Linked DNA regions of Homo sapiens. The protein of the gene in region 2 purifies or fractionates together with the protein of the main gene of each other region. This does not show direct contact. Each region holds a gene or a part of one and is shown on either strand. Other genes may lie near its edges.

Evidence for each region.
Region 1: the proteins of NAF1 (region 2) and INSL6 purify together in Homo sapiens (co-immunoprecipitation; one large-scale study listed by IntAct). This does not show direct contact.
Region 3: the proteins of NAF1 (region 2) and NOP58 fractionate together in Homo sapiens (co-fractionation; one large-scale study listed by BioGRID). This does not show direct contact.
Region 4: the proteins of NAF1 (region 2) and VANGL1 purify together in Homo sapiens (affinity purification with mass spectrometry; one large-scale study listed by BioGRID and IntAct). This does not show direct contact.
Region 5: the proteins of NAF1 (region 2) and CHD8 fractionate together in Homo sapiens (co-fractionation; one large-scale study listed by BioGRID). This does not show direct contact.
Region 6: the proteins of NAF1 (region 2) and SHQ1 purify together in Homo sapiens (affinity purification with western blotting; 2 studies listed by BioGRID and IntAct, with this or other methods). This does not show direct contact.
Region 7: the proteins of NAF1 (region 2) and DHRS2 purify together in Homo sapiens (affinity purification with mass spectrometry; one large-scale study listed by BioGRID and IntAct). This does not show direct contact.

Annotation. Positions count from the first base shown.
Region 1 is NC_000009.12:5,179,140-5,182,639, reverse strand, and holds part of INSL6 (insulin-like peptide INSL6 precursor), read left to right. Parts: intron 1-3,500. UniProt on the Homo sapiens protein: May have a role in sperm development and fertilization.
Region 2 is NC_000004.12:163,139,391-163,142,890, reverse strand, and holds part of NAF1 (H/ACA ribonucleoprotein complex non-core subunit NAF1), read left to right. Parts: intron 1-2,507; coding exon 2,508-2,668; intron 2,669-3,500. UniProt on the Homo sapiens protein: RNA-binding protein required for the maturation of box H/ACA snoRNPs complex and ribosome biogenesis.
Region 3 is NC_000002.12:202,289,763-202,293,262, reverse strand, and holds part of NOP58 (nucleolar protein 58), read right to left. Parts: intron 2,941-3,500; coding exon 2,806-2,940; intron 2,139-2,805; coding exon 1,993-2,138; intron 1,947-1,992; exon of another isoform or gene 1,835-1,946; intron 487-1,834; coding exon 360-486; intron 213-359; exon of another isoform or gene 129-212; intron 1-128. UniProt on the Homo sapiens protein: Required for the biogenesis of box C/D snoRNAs such as U3, U8 and U14 snoRNAs. Part of the small subunit (SSU) processome, first precursor of the small eukaryotic ribosomal subunit.
Region 4 is NC_000001.11:115,679,970-115,683,469, forward strand, and holds part of VANGL1 (vang-like protein 1), read left to right. Parts: intron 1-2,394; coding exon 2,395-2,528; intron 2,529-3,500.
Region 5 is NC_000014.9:21,449,624-21,453,123, reverse strand, and holds part of CHD8 (chromodomain-helicase-DNA-binding protein 8), read left to right. Parts: intron 1-3,500. UniProt on the Homo sapiens protein: ATP-dependent chromatin-remodeling factor, it slides nucleosomes along DNA; nucleosome sliding requires ATP. Acts as a transcription repressor by remodeling chromatin structure and recruiting histone H1 to target genes.
Region 6 is NC_000003.12:72,838,446-72,841,945, reverse strand, and holds part of SHQ1 (protein SHQ1 homolog), read left to right. Parts: intron 1-746; coding exon 747-901; intron 902-3,500. UniProt on the Homo sapiens protein: Required for the quantitative accumulation of H/ACA ribonucleoproteins (RNPs), including telomerase, probably through the stabilization of DKC1, from the time of its synthesis until its association with NOP10, NHP2, and NAF1 at the nascent H/ACA RNA.
Region 7 is NC_000014.9:23,642,752-23,646,139, reverse strand, and holds the end of DHRS2 (dehydrogenase/reductase SDR family member 2, mitochondrial), read right to left. Parts: intron 2,989-3,388; coding exon 2,921-2,988; intron 2,030-2,920; coding exon 1,978-2,029; intron 1,732-1,977; coding exon 1,597-1,731; coding exon of another isoform or gene 1,586-1,596; intron 1,314-1,585; coding exon 1,258-1,313; intron 999-1,257; coding exon 887-998; coding exon of another isoform or gene 838-886; 3' UTR 501-837; downstream 1-500. UniProt on the Homo sapiens protein: NADPH-dependent oxidoreductase which catalyzes the reduction of dicarbonyl compounds. Displays reductase activity in vitro with 3,4-hexanedione, 2,3-heptanedione and 1-phenyl-1,2-propanedione as substrates.

The DNA.
Region 1 (3,500 bases), on a different chromosome or scaffold from region 2:
TTTCAGATATCATCACAACTAGTCTGTAAAGGGCCCTTCTCTTTATATATTAGTTCAACAAAATTTGAGTACCTATCATGTGTTAGGCACTCTTCTTGGTGATTGGGATGTTAGAGTAAACGGTGAAGGCTCCTACCCTCATGAAGCCTACAGAATAGTAAAGATAGACAATTAACATAAGTAAATTATAATTTACAGAAGGTGATTATCCTCACTTAGCCCCTTTCTCCACTCCCATTCTCCTCCTCTCCTTGGCAATTGTTGTAATGTGTTTATTATATATTTTTTGTTTTTATAAGTTTTTGCAAATTATGCATTCTTTCCTGTTCATATGTTTTAAGATATATCTAAAAGGCATTTAAGATCTATATCTTATTGTTGCTATGTGAACATTTAGTCCATTGCTTCTAACTACTGCATAATACTCATGTGCATTCCTCACATTTTACTGATTTATTCAGTTTTGAACACCTAACCTATGTAGCCTTGAACTCCCTACCACTACAGATAACACTGCCATGAACATCATTGTATGTGTCCCCTTATGAACCTAGAAGTGTTTCTGGGATACACATCTAGAGTGGAATTGCTGTGTCATGAAGTATGTGTATGTTTAATTTGCCTGAGGAGTATCAGATTGCTCTTCAGAGTGACTACACCAATGTATAGTTGCACCACCAATCCTGTGTCCTCATATCTATGTCAACAATTAGCATTATACAGTTATTAACTTTTACCAGTGTAATAGATGTAAAATGACACTATATTTCTATTTTAACTTGCTCTGGGTCTGAACATCTTTTCATATACATGTTAACCTTTTGGATTTTCTCTTAAAATTTCCTGTTTATATATTTTGCCCAATTCTTGTTGGAATTGTTATCATTTTCCAGTTGGTTTATAGGAGTTAATCAAATCTAGATACAGTAACAACTAGTTGTTGGTTTTAGATGTCACAAATATGTTCTCCCATTTTGACATCTGTCTATTGCTGTTGCTTGACAGAAAGCCTTAACTTTTATATAATTAAGCAGTAAGTGTTTTGCCTTATGTATTAGAGGTCCTTTTCTGTCCTTCTGTTAACTTTTCAGTTTTACTTTTCACATTAAGTCCTTAATTATTAGGCTAATTTTTAGTTCTGGTCTCGGTAGGAATATTACCTCACTTTCTCAGTAAGTCTTTTTTTCTCTACATAGGGAGCTAGTTTTCTGAACACTTTCTACTAATCAATTATTTTTCTCACTAATTTGTGGGATAACCATTACTGATAAGTTTGAGCTTTCTATTTTATTTAATTGGTCATTTATTTGGCCTTTTATCGTTACTATTTTTGATACTGTGACTCTATAGGATGTCATTTATCTGGCAGGACAAGTCTTCAATGTTTATTTTTTCCCTTAGGATTGACTAACCTAAATCTTCAACCTTTATTCTTTCATATATATTTAAAAGTATGCTTATTGAATTTCTTTTTTAAAAGTCCACATGGAATTTTATTTGGGATGCGTGGAATATTATCAGGGGAACCCGCCCCCAATATTTCAATGTAGGTTCTATTTTCCATAAGTGTCCGCTGGCTGAGAAATAAAGAGTACAAAGAAAGGAATTTTACAGCTGGGCCGCCGGGGGTGACAGCACATATCAGTAGGACTCTAATGCTGGCCTGAGCCTCAAACCATCAAGTTTTTTGTTAAGAGTTTCAAAAGGGGAGGGGGTGTAAGAACAGGGAGTAGATCACATGCTTCAAAGTGCAAAGAGCAGAACTACTAATAAGGGTCTAACAAAGATGACATGCTTCTGAGGGAACAGGACAAATGGCAAAAGCAGAACTACTGATAAGGGTCCAATAAAGATCACAAGGGAAAGGGCAAAAGCAGAACTACTGATAAAGGTTTATGTTCAGTGGTGCATGTATTGTCTTGATAAACATCTTAAATAACAGAAAACAGGGTTTGAGAGCAGAGAACCAGTCTGACCACAAATTTACCAGGGTGGAGTTTTTCCCCACCCTAGTAAGCCTGAGGGTACTGCAGGAGACCAGGGCGTATATCAGTCCTTATGTCAACGACATAAGACAGACATTCCCGAAGCGGCTGTTTATAGACCTCCCTCCAGTAGTACATTCCTTTCCCAGGGTATTAATACTAATATTCCTTGCTAGGAAAAAGAATTTAGTGATATCTTCCCTACTTGCACATCCGTTTATAGCCTCTCTGCAAGAAGAAAAATATGGCTCTTTTTGCCCAACCCCGCAGGCAGTCAGACCTTACAGTTGTCTTCCCTTGTTCCCTAAAAATTGCTGTTATTCTGTTCTTTTTCAAGGTGCACTGATTTCATATTGTTCAAACACACGTTTTACAATCAATTTGTACAGTTAACACAATTATCACAGTGGTCCTGAGGTGACATACATCCTCAGCTTACGAAGATAACAGGATTAAGAGAGTAAAGACAGGCATAAGAAATTATAAAAGTATTATTTGGGAACTGATAAATGTCCATATTAAAATGAAATCTTCACAATTTATGTTCCTCTGCCATGGCTCCAGCCGGTCCCTCCGTTCAGGGTCCCTGACTTCCCACAACAGAATATATACACTAATTTGAAGAGGATTGACTTCTTTTTTTTGCTTCACCTTCTAAGTTCAGGAGTACATGTGCAGGATGTGCAGGTTTGTTACATAGATAAATGTGTGTCATGGTGGTTTGCTGCACAGATCATCCTATCACCTATGTATTAATCCCAGCATCCATTAGCTATTCCTCCTGATACTTTCCCTTCCCCCAGGGCCCCTGTCAGGCAGGCCCCAGTGTGTGTTTTCCCCTGCATGTGTCCATGTGTTCTCATCGTTCAGTTCACACTTACAAGTGAGAACATGTGGTGTTTGGTTTCTGTTCCTGCATTAGTTTGCTGAGAATGATGGTTTCCAACTCCATCCATGTCCCTGCAAAGGACATGATCTCATTCTTTTTTATAGCTGCATAGTATTCCATGGTGTATGTGTAGCAAGTTTTCTATATCCAGTTTATCATTGGTGGGCATTTAGGTTGATTCCATGTCTTTGCTATTGTGAATAGTGCTGCAATGAACATATGCTTGCATGTATCTTTATAACAGAATGATTTACATTCCTTTGGGTATACACCCAGTAATGGATTGCTGGGTCAAATGGTATTTCTGCCTCTAGGTCTTTGAGAAATCACCACACTGTCTTCCACAATGGTTGAACCCTACCAACAGTGTAAAAGTGTTCCTTTTTCTCCACAACCTTGCCAGCATCTGTTGTTTTTTAGCTTTAATAATAGCCATTCTGACTGGCATGAGATGGTATCTCATTGTAATCTTGATTTGCATTTCTCTAATGATCAGTGATGTTGAGCTATTTTTTGTTTGTTGGCCACATATATGTCTTCTTTTGAGAACTCTCTGTTCATGTCTTTTGCCCACTTTTTAATGGGGTTGTTTTTTTCTTGTAAATTTGTTTAAGTTACTTATAGAT
Region 2 (3,500 bases):
CTGTATGAGGAGAAGTGGGCCGGCCTGAGCCTTGCTGTGTCTTAAGTTGCTCTTTACAGTTTAGCTCTCAGGTGTTAGTCAATCTAAACTCTACACTCAGAGGCTAATGGTTATTTAAAATATTGTTAAATTCCTCTTTTCTACTCTGGATTAGCCAAATTGCTTATGTGAACTTGGTCAAGTTTTCCTGTAACATACCTATTAGTATTGGCTCATGCCACATACTGTCTATTGTATGGCTTCCTGTTATCTACTGCCTGTGATGTTGTTTTACTTAAAACTTTATAATGATTTCATTATAGTTGTGGCTCATAAACACTTCAGAACCTAGGAACAGTCAACTAAAATACTATGCTTTGCTTTTGTCCAAGAATTTTGAATGTCACTTATATTTTAGTTCAAACCATACTGCACAGACCTGAAGTTGGCAAGGAATTTTTCCACTGAAATTGTTTTTCACACTTAGGAAATGGATTCATGCTATCTAGGAAACAAATCCCTGGGAAACAGTCTGTGTACCAGGTTGCAAACGATGATTATTTTACCTTGTATTAATGGATACACAGGAAACTTAAAAGATATTTTTAAATCTCTGACCAAATGAAGAATTGGGTTTGTGTATATGTGAGAGAATTAAACTTGTGAATTGTTTTTAAGACAATTTTAAGTGAAAGTAAGACTACAATAATATATGTCATGTAGGCCAGTAAGAGTGGTGCTGAGTGCACCTCTTCTGTCCTTCACAGTTCTTACTGGACGAGGTCTACTGGATTTATCTAAACCTTTTCAAAGCAGATGTCTTGCTATTTTCTTAAAGTTTTTTGCTTTTACACTTTTTTAAAGCTTTAAATTTGTGATGCTATTAGTGTTATTTCATAATACATTGGCATTTTAATAGTTTTTAATGTCACTACTTCTTTTTAGAGTACACATATCTTCAGAATGGTGGTGCCCTGATAGGTGAGCTGTTTTACGCCTTAATGAAAATTAATGAAAGATTCAGTGCTGTACTGAAATCATAAAATGTGAAGAGCATTTACTATCAAAAATCAAGAACTGAGGATGTGATAAAACAGCCATGTTCAATGCAGTTGGTATAAATTGGTCCAAGCTATTTAGAAAGCTATTTAGTAATTTCCATTAAAACTTTTATGCCTTAGTGTTAATTATCGTACTTTCAGCTTCAATACCTCCACTCCTTACAAATCAATTTTTAGGAAGTCTGAAGTATAGTGATTTATATATGTTTATCATGGCATCATGTATTATGTTGAACAAATTGGAAGCTGCCTAAATGTCCTACAATAAGAAAGAAGTTAAGTAAGTTGTCCTGAGTCTGTAAAGGGGTGTTTTATGATAGCTAAAATTATACTTACAAAGAATATAACATGGAACAACTTTAGGTTTTTAAAAGGGGGCAGTATACAAAACTACAGTATGGTCTTAAAGAAAAAAATAACGTATTATAGAAAAAAGACTGGAAAAATCTATACTGGCATTGATCATGGTCTTATCTCTATAATATACATATATTATCTCGCTTTTGTCCCCCAGGCTGTAGTGCGATGGCACAATCTCGGTTCACTGCAACCTCTGCCTCCTGGGTTGAAGTGATTCTCTTGCCTCAGCCCCTGAGTGGCTGGGATTACAGGTGCCTGCCACCACACCCGGCTAATTTTTGTATTTTTAGTAGAGACAGAGTTTCACTATGTTGGCCAGGCTGGTCTTGAACCCCTGACCTCAGGTGATCCGCCCGCCTCACCTCCTAAAGTGCTGGGATTACAGGCGTGAGCCACTGCGCCCAGCCAGAAAATATATTTTTTAATTCACGTATTTTGAGAAGAAAGTACAATTTGAAACCAAGAAGTTTCCTTTCATTATTCTTAAAACGTTTTCAGAAGTAAAATATGTGGTTCTGCTAAAAGCAGTTCTTTTAGTTAAATGTTAAAGGCTGCACCATCTTTGTGTTTTTTAAACATAAATAACTTCTACTTTATTAGTTGTTAAATTAGAAAAAGTCTGTAATTTTACAAAATTCCTAACACTGTGGAAACAGCAAAAGTGATTTAACTCCTATTGAAGTCAGAAGCTTGCTTTTATATTTCCCATCTGATGATTCCAAATGTATACAGTTTTCTCAAAAGTTACCAATTATAATCCTTTTCTGTGTACTTTACAAGTTAAATGAGCAATAATTTAAAAAAATCATAATTTGCATCGAGTTGGTACCATCAAAATGATTTGAATTTGGTGAGGAACAAACTTGTTACTATTGTTTCACATTCATAGAAGGGAAATCTGGAATGAGCGAGTGCATTTTAATCAATATATGAAGACTGAATATGTAAAAATGACATAAATATAACTAAAAAATTATTTTATTGCCCTAACACTGACAAAATTACCTTGTTCTGGCAATTATCAGTGGGATTTTTAAAAGAAAACACTGCTGACTTTTCAAATAGTTATTTTACATGTTAAAAGAGGCCTTTATGTTTCTATTACAGATATTCGAGATATTTGGACCTGTTGCACATCCATTTTATGTGTTACGGTTTAATTCTTCAGATCACATTGAGAGTAAAGGTATTAAAATAAAGGAGACTATGTATTTTGCTCCATCAATGAAAGATTTCACTCAATATATATTCACAGAAAAACTAAAACAGTAAGTACTTTACCGGCATGTTGTTCTTCACTTACCTAACGTTTATATTTTAAGAATAATTCTCAGTGATGTAATTTCTTACAGTTATATTGTGTGTGTCTTGCAAAGAGTTCATTTATCTTCCTAATAATATCTTTGAAGCCTACAATTTATTTTCAGATTTTGTACGTAGAATTCATATCTTTTGTAAAAAATGAGATGATCAGCCATTAAGAGCACATTTGAGCCATGTACACTTTCTGATTCTAGTTCAGTGTTTTTTCCATTATGTACATTCTTTAATGTACTTACTATTTTAGTATTAGTACTAATATTATTATCATTTCTTAATAACTTTTTTTTCAGTTAAGTAAAATTCTCTTTGGATTCTATTTAGGGGCCTTGCTCTTCAATAAAACTTTAAAATAGTTTTCAAGAGAAAAAAAATGAGTGTTATCTCTTTATTTTGCTTATAAATTTTAAGTTTGTAGAAGAGACAACTAACACGTGTCCCTGAAAAATTGTGTAGAAAGTTACGGTGTATGGAGTTGACCTAACCAACAAACCAGTGCTCTCCATTTTGTCTATCAATAATGCTAAGTGATTTCTGTGGCATGTGACCGCAATATTTTTTTATATTTGTGCTCCCATTGGTTGAATATTTTTCAAATGTTAGCTGTTGCCAGCTGTTAGTTGTAGAGCTGTTTGTATCAGCTAAACTTGTTATAATTATGTTATTTAATTTTTTATATCAGCAAATAGCATATGAATTTAAGATTTTTTTTTAATAAAAATAACTTGAATGCTTTCGAATGATGTAATGAATATGAGCCACTAAAAATATTTTCAAATT
Region 3 (3,500 bases), on a different chromosome or scaffold from region 2:
ATTTCTTAAAACTGTATTCAAATCTAGGTCTAGTGAGTTTTTATTATGAAAATGTTAACTGTTTTATCCTCCTGCATTCATCCGATTGTTCTAATTAACCCTAACAAACTTCTAACAATGGACCACAAGTGTCTCAGAAGAGGTAGTGACTAAAGATGCCTTCATTATCCAAAAGGAAATCAGGCAAACAAATAGAAATCATCATTGAACACTTGGCCCTTAGTGATCTCCCACATATCATCTACTTTTGTGTTATCAGCTAAAATTTCTTTAACAGCTGTAGTTTAAAGATGTAAACAAAATCCTAACCAGAAAATACTTCAAACACTCATATTTACAAATTACATTAAAACCATCACCTGCATGAGCAATAAGCCGTGCTCCAACTAATTCCCCAACCATGACTGTAACATTGGGTGCAATGGCCATCATTCGATTTTGTAGATATTCATAGAGCTGGGTTCGATATTCAGAGATTTCAATCACCTAGTATAAGGAATAAAGTTAAGTCACAAATATCATATGAGTAAAAACAGTAAAAATTCCTGTCTAAAACACTGGAGCCCTCAATTATGAAAGAGCAGCTACACAACCCTGGGTACTGGGTACATCACCTATGCCTAACATCAGTTTTCTTTTTTTTTTTTCCCAGGCTGGAGCGCAGTGGCGCAATCTCAGCTCACAGCAATCTCCGCCTCCCGGGCTCAAGTGATTCTCCTGCCTCAGCCTCTGGAGTAGCTGGGACTACAGGGGCCCGCCACCACGCCCAGCTAATTTTTTGTATTTTTAGTAGAGACAGGGTTTCACCATGTTGGCCAGTATGGTCTCTATCTCTTGACCTCATGATCCTAACATCAGTTTTCTATAAGATGGCTGTAATGAGGACTTCGTTATATAATGTATGTAAACTACTTGGTCCACTGCCTGAAAATCTTAGTCAGCGTAACTGTATTTTTAAAAGATTCTAAGCAGCCCAGGCACAGTGACTCACACCTGTAATTCCAGCACTTTGGGAGGTCGAGGCAGGTGGATCATGAGGTCAGGAGTTCAAGACCATCCTGGCCAACATGGTGAAACCCCGTCTCTATGAAAAATACAAAAATTAGCTGGGCATGGTGGCACGTGCTTGTAATCCCAGCTACTCGGGAGGCTGAGGCAGGAGAACCGCTTGAACTGGGACCTGGGAGGCAGAGGTAGCAGTGAGCCTGAGAACGTGCCACTGCACTCCAGCCTGGGCTACAGGGTGAGACTCTGTCTCAAAAAAAAAAAAAAAAAAAAAAAAAAAAAAAAAAAAGATTCTGAGCAATAAACATTTGTATCATGCTCTTTTTAATTCCTATATGGCTACCTTCAAATCTGAAAGAAAAAAAAATCACAAGATATAGACATAAGACTCAGAATTAAAAGGCTCAATCCATAATTGTCTGCCATCCTTTTTTTTTTTTTTTTTTTTTTTGAGATGGAGTTTTGCTCTTGTTGCCCAGGCTGGATGCAATGGTGCCATCTCGGCTCACTGCAACCTCCCCCTCCCTGGTTCAAGCGATTCTCCTGTCTCAGCCTCCCGAGTAGCTGGGATTACAGGTGTACGCCACCACGCGCAGCTAATTTTTGCATTTTTAGTAGAGATGGGGGTTTCATCATATTGGTCAGGCTGGTCTCGAACTCCTGACCTCAGGTCAATCCCTGACTCGGCCTTCCAAAGTGCGGGGATTACAGGCGTGAGCCAACGCGCCTGGCCTTCTCTGCCATCTTAATTGATTTTTGGTTAATTCATTATTCAGACGATGATTGTAAATTACTTCCTTTTAATATGTATTTCCCCCTTTTAAGTATACAAATCATGATGGCATCAGATGAGGTAGTGACTGAACACCCTCATATTTATGTTATCAGGTGAACAACAATAAGTGTAAAAATCATCATTGCCATCAGAAAAATTAGTACTATAGAGCTGGTAACACCACAACTAGATTCTCCAGGAGTAAAATTTACCTGGGTGCAAAGATGCAGAATATTGCAAATATCTTCTTCTGAAACCTCTGTTCCCATTGATATCTCTGCAGCTGCTTTCACTTCTGCTTCAACTTCTTCTGGCAGCAACTCAGAAAGCTTGGCAGAGGCATAGTTCTTCCTATCGCCTATGGAATGTTTGCAGAGGATGAGGGAGAATCACTCTTCAACAAATTATATAAAATCCAGCAAATAGTCAAAAGAAAAAGTAGAAAGCCAATGAAAAGGATGCCTAAACAAAACAAAAAAAATGAAGAAGTTTGACCTAGTATAACAGTTTTCCTCATTTAAGGGTTTAAGTTTAGACATTAAATGTCTCCCCACCACCTTCTTCCAAAAAATAATCAGAGTAAAAAGAGGACAAAATATGCCACAACACTTATTACAGAATATAAGTGGCAAAAATTTAAAAAAGACAGGACTAATAATAATGTCACAGACAATTTTATACTGAAGCTGGGGCCAGTAATTCGTAAGGCAAGTAAACCATCAATCAATCAAGTTCCTCTGTACGTTAACGACAATCAACAATCAAGTTCCTCTGTATATTAACAGTACAGACGGCAATACTGCTATTTAGCATTAGGTACTAATATCATGTTATAGGCCATCAAAATCTAAGTTAAAATTCATTTTGTTTCTTAAATTTAAGACACTAAACTGCTACACTTCCCAAATACACAGAAATTGCAAAAACCCTGGGAATCTTGCTTAACAAAATGCTATACGTCATGTTTTAGGATGCAATCAAATTCATTTACTTTCAATGCCTTAAAGGATGAACAAATTACTCACCAACTTTCTGTAAACACTTGCAGTATGTTAAATTATCTGAAATAATTTTTCCTAATTCAGGGAAATGCCAGCCATACCATTCTCTACATCGCATAATGTAGTTGTTTAGTTCTTTATCCAAGTCATCTAACAAGGCTGTAGTAGATTAAAAACAAACAAACAAAACTTAAAGGGATTTATTGTGGTAAAACATACACAACATAAAATTTAACACTTCAGGCTGGGCACGGTGGCTCATGTCTGTAATCCCAGCAGACAGGCATATCACGAAGTCAGAAGTTCAAGACCAGCCTGGCCAACATGGTGAAACCCCATCTCTATTAAAAATACAAAAATTAGCCAGGCATGGTGGTGCACACCTGTAGTCCCAGCTACTCTGGAGGGCTGAGGCAGAAGAATCACTTGAACACAGGAGGTGGAGGTTGTAGTGAGCCGAGATCGTGCTACTGCATTCCAGCCTGGGTGACAGAGCAAGATTCCGTCGCAAAAAATTTAAAAAAAAAAGAATAAAAAATAACACTTCAACCATTTTCAAGTGTACTATTCAGTAGCATTAAGTATTCTTATGATGTTATGCAACCATTACCAGGATCTATTGCCAGAGCAATTTTATCATCAGAAACTGAAAAATTCTGTACCCATTAAACAGTAACTCATTCCCACCTTCCCCCCAACCTCTAGTTATCTTTATACTT
Region 4 (3,500 bases), on a different chromosome or scaffold from region 2:
GGCACACACCAGGGAGTGTGTGTGTGTGTGTGTGTGTGTGTGTGTGTGTGTGTATGTGAGAGAGAGAGAGAGAGAGATCAGGGAGAGGGTTGCAATGAATCTCTGGATGGGGTAGGAATAAAGAAACACTTGCCCCTCTCTGGAGAATGCCATGGACAGGGGGCAAGGACGGAGTTGGAGCCACATTGACTTGGAGATTGCCAGGTGAGACCTTCAGGGCAAGCAGACTAGACTTCTGCAGGAAGAGCTCTCGTGACACACAAACCTCCACGGAAGTCCGCCTCCTCAGGAAGGCTGCACCCTGTCCCAGGCAGCCAGAAGCTCTTCTCCGTGGTTACTCAGCCCCACGTGTTCCAGCATGAGAACATACTCACTGTCATGGGGTTCATGCTCCAGGTACCAGCTAAGGTCTATCTTCATATTCCCAGGGCTTAGCAGACACAGGCACTCAAATATGGAATGACGAGTGAACAACTGAGTAACTGAATGGTCAGAATTTTCAAAATGCAGATTTGCTGTTAGGAGTCTTAGGTTTACTTCCATTATGCAAAGTTGGTCTCACCGGATTTCCCCTGATAGTGTTCCCCAGCCTCACATGACTGTACATTATCTAGGACGATATTAAGTACCAACTGAATGCGGGCACTGTTGGGGATATAACTCAGAAAGTTTTACCATGATTCTGCTCTTAAGCAGGTTAGCTGACTGACTTCCATATTCAATTCTGTTCAAGTCTTGAAGCAGAGCTCCAAGGGGAGCCAAATGGGTGGGTAGACAGAATTTCCAGTGGATAGTTTAGGAGCTCCCTTGTCTTGGTGTGAAGTGAGGATCCCTGAGCCACCTGGAGAGTGTTGGAACACAGTGTGGTCATCCAGGAATCAAAGGGAGCCCCATCCTGGTGCTCTGGCTACTGCAAATAATCCTTGTAAGCCGATCTGCTTAGCAGAGTACTAGAAAGGAAAATCCAAAGGGCAAGATAAAAATATATCTGTGGTATTTAACATGGTGGTGGTTGGAGATGTCAGCACGTACGCTGTTACACAGAGTCCGCATGTTACCGGGAAGCCCAACTTGGAGGTTTGTAAATCATATCAGAGTTCCAGCTCTCCTGTTTATTAAATGCATACTGTTGTGCAGGTCATAGATTTTTGAGCCTCAGTTTTCTTACCTCGAATGATTGTGAGGGTTAAATGAGAATCAGGTATGTGCAAACCCTTGCTGTATCATTGCAAGGTGTTCTTCAAAGTGGCAAGTGTTCTGCACCATAGACCAAGGGCATATTCTTTTGCTGTCTATACTCATTTCCAATTATAAGTACCCTCCCACATCCTCTCTCCCACTTGTTGATGGTACCTGTTCTTTGTTCCCCTGCTGCTCTCTGAGGACCAAGCAGGGGATAGTTGGAGACCTAGAATATCGGAACATAGATAGTCACCTTCATACCCCTCTGCCAAAGGCCAGAGATAGCACTCCAAGGGGCAGGGGGACCCAGAAAGATCAAGTGGTCTCAGCGGAGGCTCTCTTTTTTTTGTTGTTTTTTTTGTTTTTTTTTTTGAGACTGAATTTCACTCTTGTTGCCCAGGCTGGAGTGCAGTGGTGCAGTCTCGGCTCACTGCAACCTCCGCCTCCTGGGTTCAAGTGATTCTCCCGTTTCAGCCTCCCGAGTAGCTGGGATTACAGGTGCATGCCACTACACCCCGGTAATTTTTGTATTTTTAGTAGAGACGGGGTTTCATCATATTGGTTAGGCTGGTCTCAAACTCCTGACCTCAGGTGATCTGCCCACCTCAGCCTCCCAAAGTGCTGGGATTACAGGCGTGAGCCACCGCGCGTGGCCAAGGCCCTCTTAAGTACGCTCTGCCCTGGATGGCTGCAGTTGTTCTGGTCTGTATAAAACCTAAGTTCCAGGATTCCTTATACCCAGGGATACCAAGGCCTAGGGGACAAAACCCTGAATGAGGACCTGAGAAACCTGAATCTATACTTTGTTCTTTCACTCATTAGCTCTGCAACCATTAGTAAGTCTCTTGCCCTTTTGGGGGCATCCTCAGTTTCTTCTTTTGTAAACCGAGGAAAAATAGAAAAAGTTCTTGTGTGCCTAAAGCTAAATGTAAGTTATGAGTTACAACTTCTTCCTCTTTCAACAAAGGGCTAGATGGGATGTGGCTAATCACAGGTCCAGGAGAGGGCACAGAAGTCACCTGGCCATGGGGCTTAGTTTCAGCTTTAAGTTCTCATCCTGGAGACCAGAAGTGTGGTGGAACCCAGTGGACTTCTGTATGAGATTATCTTTGATGTTGTGTTCCTTTACCTGACTCCAAAAGAGGATTTTTCGTTTAGGACCTGCTTCTTCAGTGAAAAAGCTTTGCATTAATTTTGTTCTTTTTTTCTCAGTATCCAGCGAGCAGCATTGGTGGTCCTAGAAAATTACTACAAAGATTTCACCATCTATAACCCAAACCTCCTAACAGCCTCCAAATTCCGAGCAGCCAAGCATATGGCCGGGCTGAAAGTCTACAATGTAGATGGTATGTGCCTTGAAAGGGTGTCCGTGGTGCTCACAGGGGCACAGTTGGGTGACTATTTAAGATTCATGGTACGTTTGGTTCGACTTCTTCTCTGGGCCTACCTTTATGGTACATTCTTGTTTCAGAACAATTTCTCTTTTTTATGTAGGCAGACACATGTTTAGAGGAATGTTGATTTACCATCTACCTGTGTTGGAAGCCTGTTCATTTTGGGATTTTATGATTGAAAACAGCAGCGGTGTGTGTTTCCTGCCTTCTGCCAGGATCATCTTATATTGGAAGCTGTTAGGAAAGGGTTGCTTTTCAAAATTGGTGCACATTACCCACAAACTCAGAAAGCTACCTAAATCATTAAGACTAGAAATCTCAGTAGTCCAGGCATCTGGTGAGATACCTGCGGGCACTTCTTACTCGTGGCTAGGAGCCGGAGTTGAGTGGGTGGCAGGAGGCTGGAGGCCAGGCTGGGTAAGTCCAAGCTATGTTTCAGGGTATCACATGGTTAAGTGCAAGAAACAGGATGCGGTGTCATTTCTTCCTGGGTATGTTGGGTGAGGGCAAGAACTTTGCAAACCCTAGGAGAGGATTATATTTTCAACAAGTCAAGTGATTTATATACAGTGTCAGTTTTTGTTGGCAATATCCTTTCAGTTATTTGTTTGTTCATTTTTTTTTGGCTATATGAGGTGTGAGCTCCCTCACGAAGCCTGAAGGATTGATAAATTTCACCTGTGATCTAAAAACTTAGGAAAGATTCCCACTAGTGAAACCAAGTCACCAGCCAAGTAGATCATCCGTAAGAAAGCCTGAAATCTGCCTATGTTTCTGAAAAGTTAAGGTGGTCAGTGGTCAGGGGACAGGACAGGACTTCTGAGTCTGTATTCATTAACGGGTCACGTTGCACACCCTCAAGCATTGGTATTTCCTAGAAAAGTTGTGGCTGCCATGACATTCTAGCATAGCTTGCTTTCCATT
Region 5 (3,500 bases), on a different chromosome or scaffold from region 2:
TTGCCCCAGCTGGTCTTGAACTCCTCGGCTCAAGTGATCCACCCACCTTGGCCTCCCGAAGTGCTGGGATTACAGGTGTGGGCCACCACACCCAGCCTGACAGTTGTATTTCTTTGTTTTTTGTTTTCTTTTTTTTTTTTTGAGATGGAGTCTCGCTGTGTCACCCAGGCAGGAATGCAGTGGTGCGATCTTTGCTCACTGAAAGCTCTGCCTCCCAGTTCAAGTGATTCTTCTGCCTCAGCCTTCCGAGTAGCTGGGACTACAGGCGCGCACCACCATGCCCGGCTAATTTTTGTATTTTTAGTAGAGACAGGGTTTCACCATATTGGCCAGGCTGGTCTTTAACTCCTGACCTCATGATCGGCCTGTCTCGGCCACCCAAATCGCTGGGATTACAGGCGTCAGCCACTGCGCCCGGCTGACAGTTGTATTTCTATGTAATGGGATTGTTGTATGAAGTTTTCTTTTTTTTTTTTCTTTTGAGACAAGTCTCCCTGTGTCTCCCAGGCTGGAGCGCAGTGGCGCGATCTCGGCTTACTGCAACCTCCACCTCCTGGGTTCAAGTGATTCTCCTGCTTTAGCTTCCCAAGTAGCTGGGGTTAAGGCGTGTGCCACCACGCCTGGCTAATTTTTTGTATTTTTAGCAGAGACAGGGTTTCACCATGTTGGCCAGGCTTGTCTCAAACTCCTGACCTCAGGCTGATCTGCCTGCCTCGGCCTCCCAAAGTGCCAGGATTACAAGCGTGAGCCACCACACCAGGCCTGAAGTTTTCTTTTACCTAAAGTTTATTTAACATTTATTGCATTCTGGCTGGGTGCAGTGGCTCACGCCTGTAATCCCAGCACTTTGGGAGGCCAAGGCGGGCATCCTAGCCAACATGGTGAAACCCCGTCTCTACTTAAAAAAATACAAAAATTAGCTGGGCGTGGTGGCGTGGTCCTGTAGGCCCAGCTACTCGGGAGGCTGAGGCAGGAGAATCACTTGAACCAGGGAGGCGGAGATGGCAGTGAGCCTAGATCGTGCCACTGCACTCTAGCCTGGTGACAGAGCGAGACTCTGTCTCAAAACAACAACAAAACATTTACTGCATTCTAGATTTTGTCTTGGATAACCTTTTTCTCCTTTAATCTCTCAGTTTTGTGGGTGAGTAAACTTTAAATGAAACTCTAAAGTTTTCATTGTATTTGTATTGTAAAATAAGTCCACCTCTTTGTAGTTACTTAATGTTTTACGTTTAAACTACAAAGTATCTTAATCTCTGACGTTTCTCATTAAGCTGTTCTCTAGGTAACATTTCTTTTGCCCTTTTATTATTAATTATATAGTTTCCATCCTTCACTAGGCCCTTAGTTTGTTAATGTTACATGAAGCAAAATGGTCAACTTCAAAATATCTTATTTGTTGCCTTCAGGTTGCAGCAGGAGACTTAAAGCACGTAATTTCTACCCATTAATTGTATGGTACAGGATAATAAAAATTCCAGCAGGCATAGATAGAAATTAGCCTGGCATAGATAATTACTTTTTTTTTTTTTTTTTTTTTTTTTTTTTTGAGACAGAGTCTCACTCTGTTGCCCAGGCTGGAGTACAATGGAGCGATCTCGGCTCAGCACAACCTCCGCCTCCCGGGTTCAGGTGACTCTCCTGCCTCAGCCTCCCCGAGTAGCTGGGACTATAGGCGCGTGCCACCATGCCCGGCTAATTTTTTGTATTTTTAGTAGAGTCGGGGTTTCACTATGTTGGCCAGGCTGGTCTCAAACTCCTGGGCTCAAGCTATCCTCCTGCCTCTGCCTCCCTAAGAGCTGGGATTACAGGTGTGAGCTACCGCACCCAGCCGATAATTACTTTTACATTAGTCTTCAGCAGGGAAAGATCCAGGAATATATTTTAAGCAGTGGAGCAGTGTAGGGATCTTAGACAACATTCTAACCTCTTCAAATTCAGATTTTCCTGTAGTATATTCTCACTAGTTTGTTTGGAAAGAGTTTCCAGAACTATGATTTACTGTTATGTGTAATTATTAAGAAAGGGTTGACCTTGTCATTTAAGGAGTGAAATATCCCTTATTTTCTTTCCTTTGTATATTAATATTTCATAGATATTTATTGTATATGACTTCATTTTATTTGTTGTTTATTTCATTTTAAAAAGACAATTAAATAGCATGCTACTGAAATTACCAGATAATTTCCAGGACTGTGCTTCATTGCTCCCTTGTATGTTAGCACCTTAAATGTGATAGTGCCAATCCTTTGGGTAGTGTCTCAATATTCCAGTGATGAGTAATTTCCTAATAACACCTTTTTGTTTTCAGAGTCTGTAATTCTTCTAAGACTATGTCAGTAGCTTTCCAATAAAGGATATATAGTAACTGAATTCTTAATTTTATTTGAGAAGAAGGCTACTGAACAGCTATAAGGTCTTACGCTTTTTTTTTTCTTTTTTTCTGTTTTTGTTTTTTTTTAAGAGACAGGATCTTACTGTGTTTGTTATGTAGGCTGGAGTGCAGTGGTGCAATTATAGCTCACTGCAACCTCAAACTTTTTGGCCCAAGTAGTCCTCCCATCTCAGCCTCCCAAGTAGCTGGGGTTACAGGCCGGCCCATATCACAGTGCTCAGCTGAGAGTTGTAAAATGTTTAAGGTTTCTCAGATTGTCTCTTGTGTTATTATAGAAACCTTTGGAATTTCCTGCTTTCTTTTTTTCTTCCACTACATGCTTTGGGGATGCACTATATCTTTGGGGATTATTTCTTTGGGATATGGTTATTCAGAAGTACATTGTCATATTAGTGATATGGGAATTTCTTTTTGGTTAGTTCTGGAAGAAACCAGTGATTTCTATAGTTTGGCTGCTTATTTAGATACACCCAAATCATAACAGAATTTCGTGTATGGAACATGATTTTATCAGATATACATCTATCTAAGTAAACAGCACTAATGGTAAGATGTTTCTGGATTTCTGAATTTTTTCATCTTTTTTTTCATTTTCTATTGCTGCTGCACAAATTAGTGGATTTTTGAATAGGGGCTAGCAAGTTGCATAAACATTGAACTTTTACTCAGTATTTTTCATTTCTTCTACTCAGTACTCAGTCATTCTTGTTTTTCCTCCCCTTCCTGGGTCTGGGGCACATTAGTCAGTTCTTCCTTAATTTGCATATCAATTCTCCTATAAAATTTAGTGCTTTCGCCTGTTTTACAAATATGACTGCTTTTTTAAATGAAAATTTAACTATATAGTGTAGGCAGTGGTTACTTCCTTTCACTACGCTCCTGAAAGTCATTGGAGTCAAAAGCTAAGTAAGCTGGATCTGGGCATGTGAACTACCAAGGGACAGTCTAGTCAGTTGGAAACTAAAAGTTACCACAAGCAGGTATTGTGAAGTAAATTGAATACTTAAGAAATAGACACTGACATATTCCTACAAACATAAAAGTGATTAGTTGAATTACCTGGGATGTTACTCTAGATCACAAGTGCTGGTTGAAATCTGTT
Region 6 (3,500 bases), on a different chromosome or scaffold from region 2:
ATCCATGGCCCGTTAGGAACCTGGCTGCACAACAGGAGGTGAGCGGAGGGCCAGGAGTATTACTGCCTGAGCTCTGGCTCCTGTCAGATCAGATTAGATTCTCATAGGAGCATGAACTTACTGTGAACTGTGCCTGCGAAGGGTCTAGGTTGTGTGCTCCCTATGAGAATCTAAAGCCTGATGATCTGAGGTAGAACAGTTTCATCCCCCAAAACTATCTCTTTACCTCTTTGATCTGTGGAAAAGTTGTCTTCCACAAATCCGGTCTCTGGTGCCAAAAAGTTTGGGAACCACTGATGTAAAGTGAACACCACCTCTGTCAAGAAATGGAGCATTTCCAACACCCGAAGAATACCATCCTGTATTCTTCCATTACTTTGCCCTCTCTCCAGGGTAACCACTATCCTCTGTTTTGCCTGTTTTTACGTTGCATATGTAGATCATACAGTATGTGTTCTTTTTGTCTGGCTGCTTTCACTTAACATTATTTTTGTGAGATTTATTCATATTCTAGCTGAGATTCGTTTGCTTTCATTGCTCTGTAATATTCCATTGTATGAACATACCACATTTTTGGTTCTTTTTTTTTTTTTGCTGTCACGAATAGCGGAGCTATGAATATTCTTTTAGTACATTTGGTATATGTCTTTTGGTACATCTTTGTGGGCATTTTTTCCTATACTTTTTCTTCCCCTAGTTGTACTTAAATCCAATACTTAAAAAAAATTAAAATTTAACACATTCAGGTGCTTCTGAGATTCCTGAGGAAGTAGTTGACGATGAAGAGTTTGATTGGGAAATTGAGCAGACACCCTGTGAAGAGGTATCAGAAAGTGCTTTGAATCCGCAGTGCCACTATGGATTTGGAAACTTACGATCAGGAGTGTTGCAACGGTTACAGGTATGTTGTCTTTCTGAAAGATCTTGATCTATAGGGTTTTTCCATTTGGATATTTTAATTTCAGTTATGCTTACACTTGGTAGTTTTTAAAAATAATATTACAGGAGGTGATTGTATTTAAAGCACTTAGCACAGCTAAAGTACATAGATGTGCATTCCCTTCCATTTCATTGGCTGTTCTGCCTAACTGTACTGCTCTTACAGACACCCCGTGGCTTTCTTTTTTCTCCCCTTTATTCAGTATTCTAGACATGAAGTTTCCCAAGTACAAAGCAGAACTCCTCTCTCATACTTCCTGCAAAGCTTTATGTTTTATACTTCTGAAAAGTGAGATCATGTACTTACGGCATGATGTCTCTTCTTTTCTGTATATAAATGAAATAGAATGTTCCTGGCGAGAATGAGATTGTGTGTTTTGATCAAATTGTCTAATTCTTGGTGTATAGTAGGCACCATTTTCTATTCTCTTTTTTTTTTTTTTTTTGAGACGGAGTCTTACCCTGTCGCCAAGGCTGGAGTGCAGTGCAGTGGCACGATCTCGGCTGATGGCAGCCTCTGCCTCTAGGGTTCAAGCAATTCTTCTGCCTCAGCCTCCTGAGTAGCTGGGATTACAGGTGCCTACCACCACGCCTGGCTAGTTTTTGTATTTTTTGCGGAGATGGGGTTTTACCATGTTGGCCAGGATGGTCTCAAACTCAAGTGATTTGCCTGCCTTGGCCTCCCAAAGTTCTGGGATTATAGGCATGAGCCACTGTGACCAGCCTATTGTTTATTTATTCTTTTTTTTTTTTTTTTTTTTTTTAAGACAGAGTCTCACTTTGCTGGAGTGCAGTGGCACGATCTTGGCTCACTGCAACCTCTGCCTCCCGGGTCCAAGTGATTGTCCTGCCTCAGCCTCCCAAGTAGCTGGGATTACAGGCGCCCATCACCACGCCTGGCTAATTTTTCTATTTTTAGTAGAGATGGAGTTTTGCCATGTTGGCCAAATTAGCCGGATGTGGTGGTGCGTGTAATCCCAGCAGTTTGGGAGGCTGAGGCGGGTGGATCACGAGGTCAGGAGCTCGTGACCATCTTGGCTAACACGGTGAAACCCCATCTCTACTAAAAATACAAAAAATTAGCCAGGCATGGTGGCACCCACCTGTAGTCCCAGCTACTCAGGAGGCTGAGGCAGGAGAATCCCTTGAACCCGGGAAGCAGAGGTTGCAGTGAGCTGAGATCTCGCCACTGCACTCCAGCCTGGGCAACAGTGTGAGACTCTGTCTCAAAGAACAAACACAACAAAACAAAACCTGTTTAGAATGTGGTTTATTATCTTAAGACATATTTGAATTTACGAAGGAGAGGGAAAAGACCTGGGTTCTGGTCCCGCTCCTACCTCTGTTAAGATTTGGGATACCAGGCCAGTTATTTGACCACAAGTAAGTTTTGTCTCCTCTTTGGAAAGTGGAGATAAATTTGCCCACCTACTTTATAAGGCTGTCTTGAAAATTTAAAAAGATAATGCATGTGAAAACTCTTTGGAAAGTGTAGAATGCTGTAAAGACTCCTGCCTTTGAAAAATATAAAATGGTCTCAAAATTCCTTAAAGGGAACAACATTGAGATTTACTTAGGAGCAAATGCTGGTGAAATAGCCTTCCTTCTAAAAACTTAGGTGTTTTTCTGCTGAGTTGTGGTCTGCCCATATTCTCTGCTTGATCACAATCGCTGGTGATCTCAGAGGTAATTAGAGTAGAGTCAGTTTTGTCTGTAGCAGGAACTACAGTGAATGGCCCTCAATTGTTGGCCAAGAGATAGTTTGTGGTCAGGCTGTTTTGGGCTTGCCAATCTAACGCTGTACATGAATGATAATAAATGTCACACAGGCTAAGTATGGATTTTACATTTACATTAGAAGTGCTTCTTTGAGGCCAGGGATTTGTTACTTAATTGTTGCTTCTGTTTACGGAAAATCCTTTTGAAAGATTTCTGACAGGTTGCTGAGATGTTGTAGGAATGCCATAATGTGAGCCTAGAATGAGTGCCTTTTAGGTCAGAAATTCTTGTATCTTGAAAATGTTCACTTAATAATTTAGGTTTTTTTTTTTTTTTAAGCTGCTATACTTTCTTTTTGGATGTCTTAACTAATGTATCAAATACCTAGACATCTATTACTTAGGTTAAAAACATTAAACATTAACCAATATAGTTGACTCCTGTCTAATCCCTTTTTGTTTACATCCCTCTGTTTCCCATCAGAAATAAACCACTGTGGCTGGGTGCAGTGGCTCACACCTGTAATTCCAGCACTTTGGGAGGCTGAGGCAGGCGGGTCAGGAGTTTGAGACCAGTCTAGCCAACATGGCAAAACCCTGTCTCTACTTAAAAATACAAAAATTAGCTGAGCGTGGTGGCGCATGCCTGTAATCCCAGCCATTTTGGAGGCTGGCAGGAGAATCGCTTGAACCCAGGAGGCAGAGGTTGCAGGGAGCCGAGATTGCGCCACTGCACTCCATCCAGTCTGGGTGACAGAGTGAGACTACATCTCAAAAAAATAAAAAAGGAAATGAACCACTGAATTTAATGTTTATTATTCTAAGCTTTTAAAATGGCTTAAT
Region 7 (3,388 bases), on a different chromosome or scaffold from region 2:
AGAGTGGTGCTCAGGGCCACGGATGGCTCGAGGACCACTGTTCCCCCTCCACTGTGCTGAGCCTCAGTATGCATACACAGAGGGCGGTGCCCCCGAATATGACTCAGGACAATACACAGGGCCTTTTCTGAGAAAGCCATGTGTTCACCCCAAGAGGAACTTCAGCTCTGACTACTCTCCTCTAACTGGAATTATGCACAAGATTCGGTATAACTGTTTTCTCTGGGTTCTCAAAGGCCTGTGTGGCCCAGAAAACATTAAGAAGTATTAGCCTGGAGGACCCCTGGGAGAACCCCAGAATCTTTCCACTGTCACCCACCACCACCTTGCTGAGCCCCCAGCAGGCCCAGTTCAGATAATGGAGCACACACAAAGCCTTCTGCAAGGCAGCACACTCACTCCCGCCTCTGTGTGTCTGCGACGAGCTCAGGGCAGCTGGCGGTAGAGGCCTCTTCCCACCATGCTGCCCTGGGCTCTACCCTTGACAGATGCTTCCAGACTTGAGGATAAATTTGAGTTTATTTTAGGAAAAAAAATGCTTAAAGCACAAATTACAGAGAGGAGGAGCTGAAATCCTTCAAAGGCCTGAGCTTCTACTCCTTTCCCTTAAGATTCCTCCAAAGCACCAGCTCCATAAAATCCTTCAGCTCCCCAGACCCACACCAAGAACCCCACATGTTAATTGGATCAGCCAAATCTACAAGCAGATAAGTCCTAAGGAGAATGCCGAAGCGTTTTTCTTCTTCCTCAAGCCTAGCATGAGTAAGCCCCCAAATTGCTAGTCTGGCAGAATGGCAGACTCTGCCTCCAGATCCAAATGATCACCTAGACACCCCCTCAGGCTCCTGGGCCTGGGACCACAGCTACGCAGCCGCCCCCACTCCTCTCAGAGCCGAGTGGAGTAGCCTGCCACCGCAATGTTCTCCCCGTTGACGTAGCTGGCATCTGGAGAGCACAGGAAGGACACGATTCCTGCACAGTCCTCTGACTCCCCAATCCTGGATGGAAGAAGGACACAGTGTCAAGCATCTTGTACTCTGATTCTGCTGCTCTGGGGCTCACGGATGACAGGTGGGAGTGGGCTCCATGGGGAACAAGGTGGATGCAGCAGGGCTACTTGCACCCTCCAGGGCCATGTGGACTCCAGATTTCAGCAAAAACAATGGCCAGATGACAGGGAGGGGTCTGCTCTTGCAATAGACTCAACTGCCCCTGCCTAGCCACACATGGACCACCAAATCTCCAAACCCCACTTGCCTCTGCAGCTGATGATGTTCCTTGAAGTTCTTCCAGAGAGACTCATTCCCATGAAACTGGGCAAAGGGAAGAAATGAAGGAGTCAGTGCTACTAAAACAAGATGGGCAGGGCCCCGGGAAGGCCACCAGGCAGAACACCTAGGGCAGCTTTGCCCTTCTCAAAAGAAGGAGCATCTTTTCAGGATGGATGGACTGCACCATGGCTGAGTTCAGAGAACAATGAGGACCTCAGTCATAGGCATGCTGACCTAAGGATTCAGTCACCCCTTGATCCCTTATTCACTGGGAAGGGTTCCCACTGAGCCAGACTGGGAGATGGAAGACACACCCAATCCTCACCACTTTGCTGAAGTCAGTTTTGATAATTCCTGGAACCACGCAGTTTACCCGGATGTCCTTGGGGGCCAGCTCCAATGCCAGTGTTCTAGTGAGACCCAGCAGCGCTGTCTTGCTGACATTGTAGACACCCAGCGCCTGGGAAGGGAATTGACAGAGTGATTAGGATATGGGAGAGTGGGGGAAAGCATCAGTTGGATTTCTCACCTACAGGGATCTCACAGGCCCAGCAGCCCTCCCACCCACATGGAGACAAGCTCAGCCCAGGGCAGCAGGAGGATGGTGGGGGTCTGTCCCAGGCACTTTGTCTGTAAGGCTCTGAGGAAAAGAACAAAGTTGCCCCTCACCCTATACCACTCAGGAGCACAAGGACCAAGCACTTACCACTACTGGATTATAAGCTGCAATGGAAGAGACCAGGATGACAGCACCCCTCCTGAGACAAGACAAACATAAGAGAAGCTGAAGCTAAGAGCTTACCACTGATGGTGACACTATCATGAGTTCATTAAATGATGCAACCCTCACAGAAGCAACACAGGTCCTATTACTGTCCCCATCTCAGAGTTCAGAAAACTGAGGCTCAGAAAGGTTTAGTACCAGCCAATACACGGCAGAGCTAGGATTCCATGCCTATTTCTCATAAATACGATGTCCATGCTCAGAACCCTTATCTTCTGCTTCCTCTCTTGCCAGGTGCTTGAAGGAGAGGGCAGGGTGGGCTTTGTGAAGAGGCACCCAAGGCTGATGGTGAGTGCCTATCAATGAGCAACCTCTAAGGAGCAGATGGGGTAAGGGAGACCAGAAGTGACAGTCAGGAACTTTCCTTCTACTGAAGACAGCCCCTGGCCAGTTCCTAAGGGTGTGTCTGTGAGGGGTACAGTCAGATCTGCAGGACCTGGAACACAGGCAGGGTCCCTGGAGACCAAGCGCAGGCATGAGGAGAGGTCTGGGACAGGCTTTTTCCTATGGAGAGGAATGGGGCTAACCCTGTCATTGGTTTTAAGTTGGTAAGAACAGAGAGCAGGTAAGGTGACAATGACCAGCCCACAAGGTCAAGGAGTTAAAGCATAGCCTTGTCCCAAACCTGCTGATGTCAAGGCCAAGGAGGCTATGCCTGGGCCCCTGGAATACTACTCTCATCCTGCAGCCACTGGAATTGGGAATGGCAGCCACACAGATGGGGAGGCAGGACAAGAAGATGAGGGATGTGGAGATCCCAGACCTCTTCTGTCCTCTACCCACTACTGGCTGTGCTACCGACTGTATTTCTGTGCCCACCTCAGGTCCCCAACTCCGACTGGTCCCCACCCCCGCCCTGCCATACCTGTTCTCCATGTAGGGCAGCAACTGGCTCAGCAGCAGGGCTGGGGACTTCACGTTCACACTTAGGATCTGAAATCAGAGCAGAGCATGGGTGAGGGCAGAGAGACATGGTCAGCCCAAGTCCTGCTCTCATAAGACACTTGGAGCCCTGTAATTTGTGCAGTAGACCCAATGTATGTGCATATAAGAGAAACCAATCCCCCTTCTGACTGGTGCAAGAGGTATTTCCAATTTGCTAATGGTTTCATAGGCAGGCAGGCTAAGTCACAGGCCTGTGAGCAGAGCCCTGAAAATGTGAATTGTTCAGGACTGACACGAGGAAGGAAATGTTCAGGCCTTTTAAAGAAAATGGGGACTGGGGGCAGTGGGTCATGCCTGTAATCTCAGCACTTTAGGAGGCCAAGGTGGGAGGATTACTCAAGGCCAAAAGTTCAAGACCAGCCTGAGCAACATAGTGAGACCTTGTCTC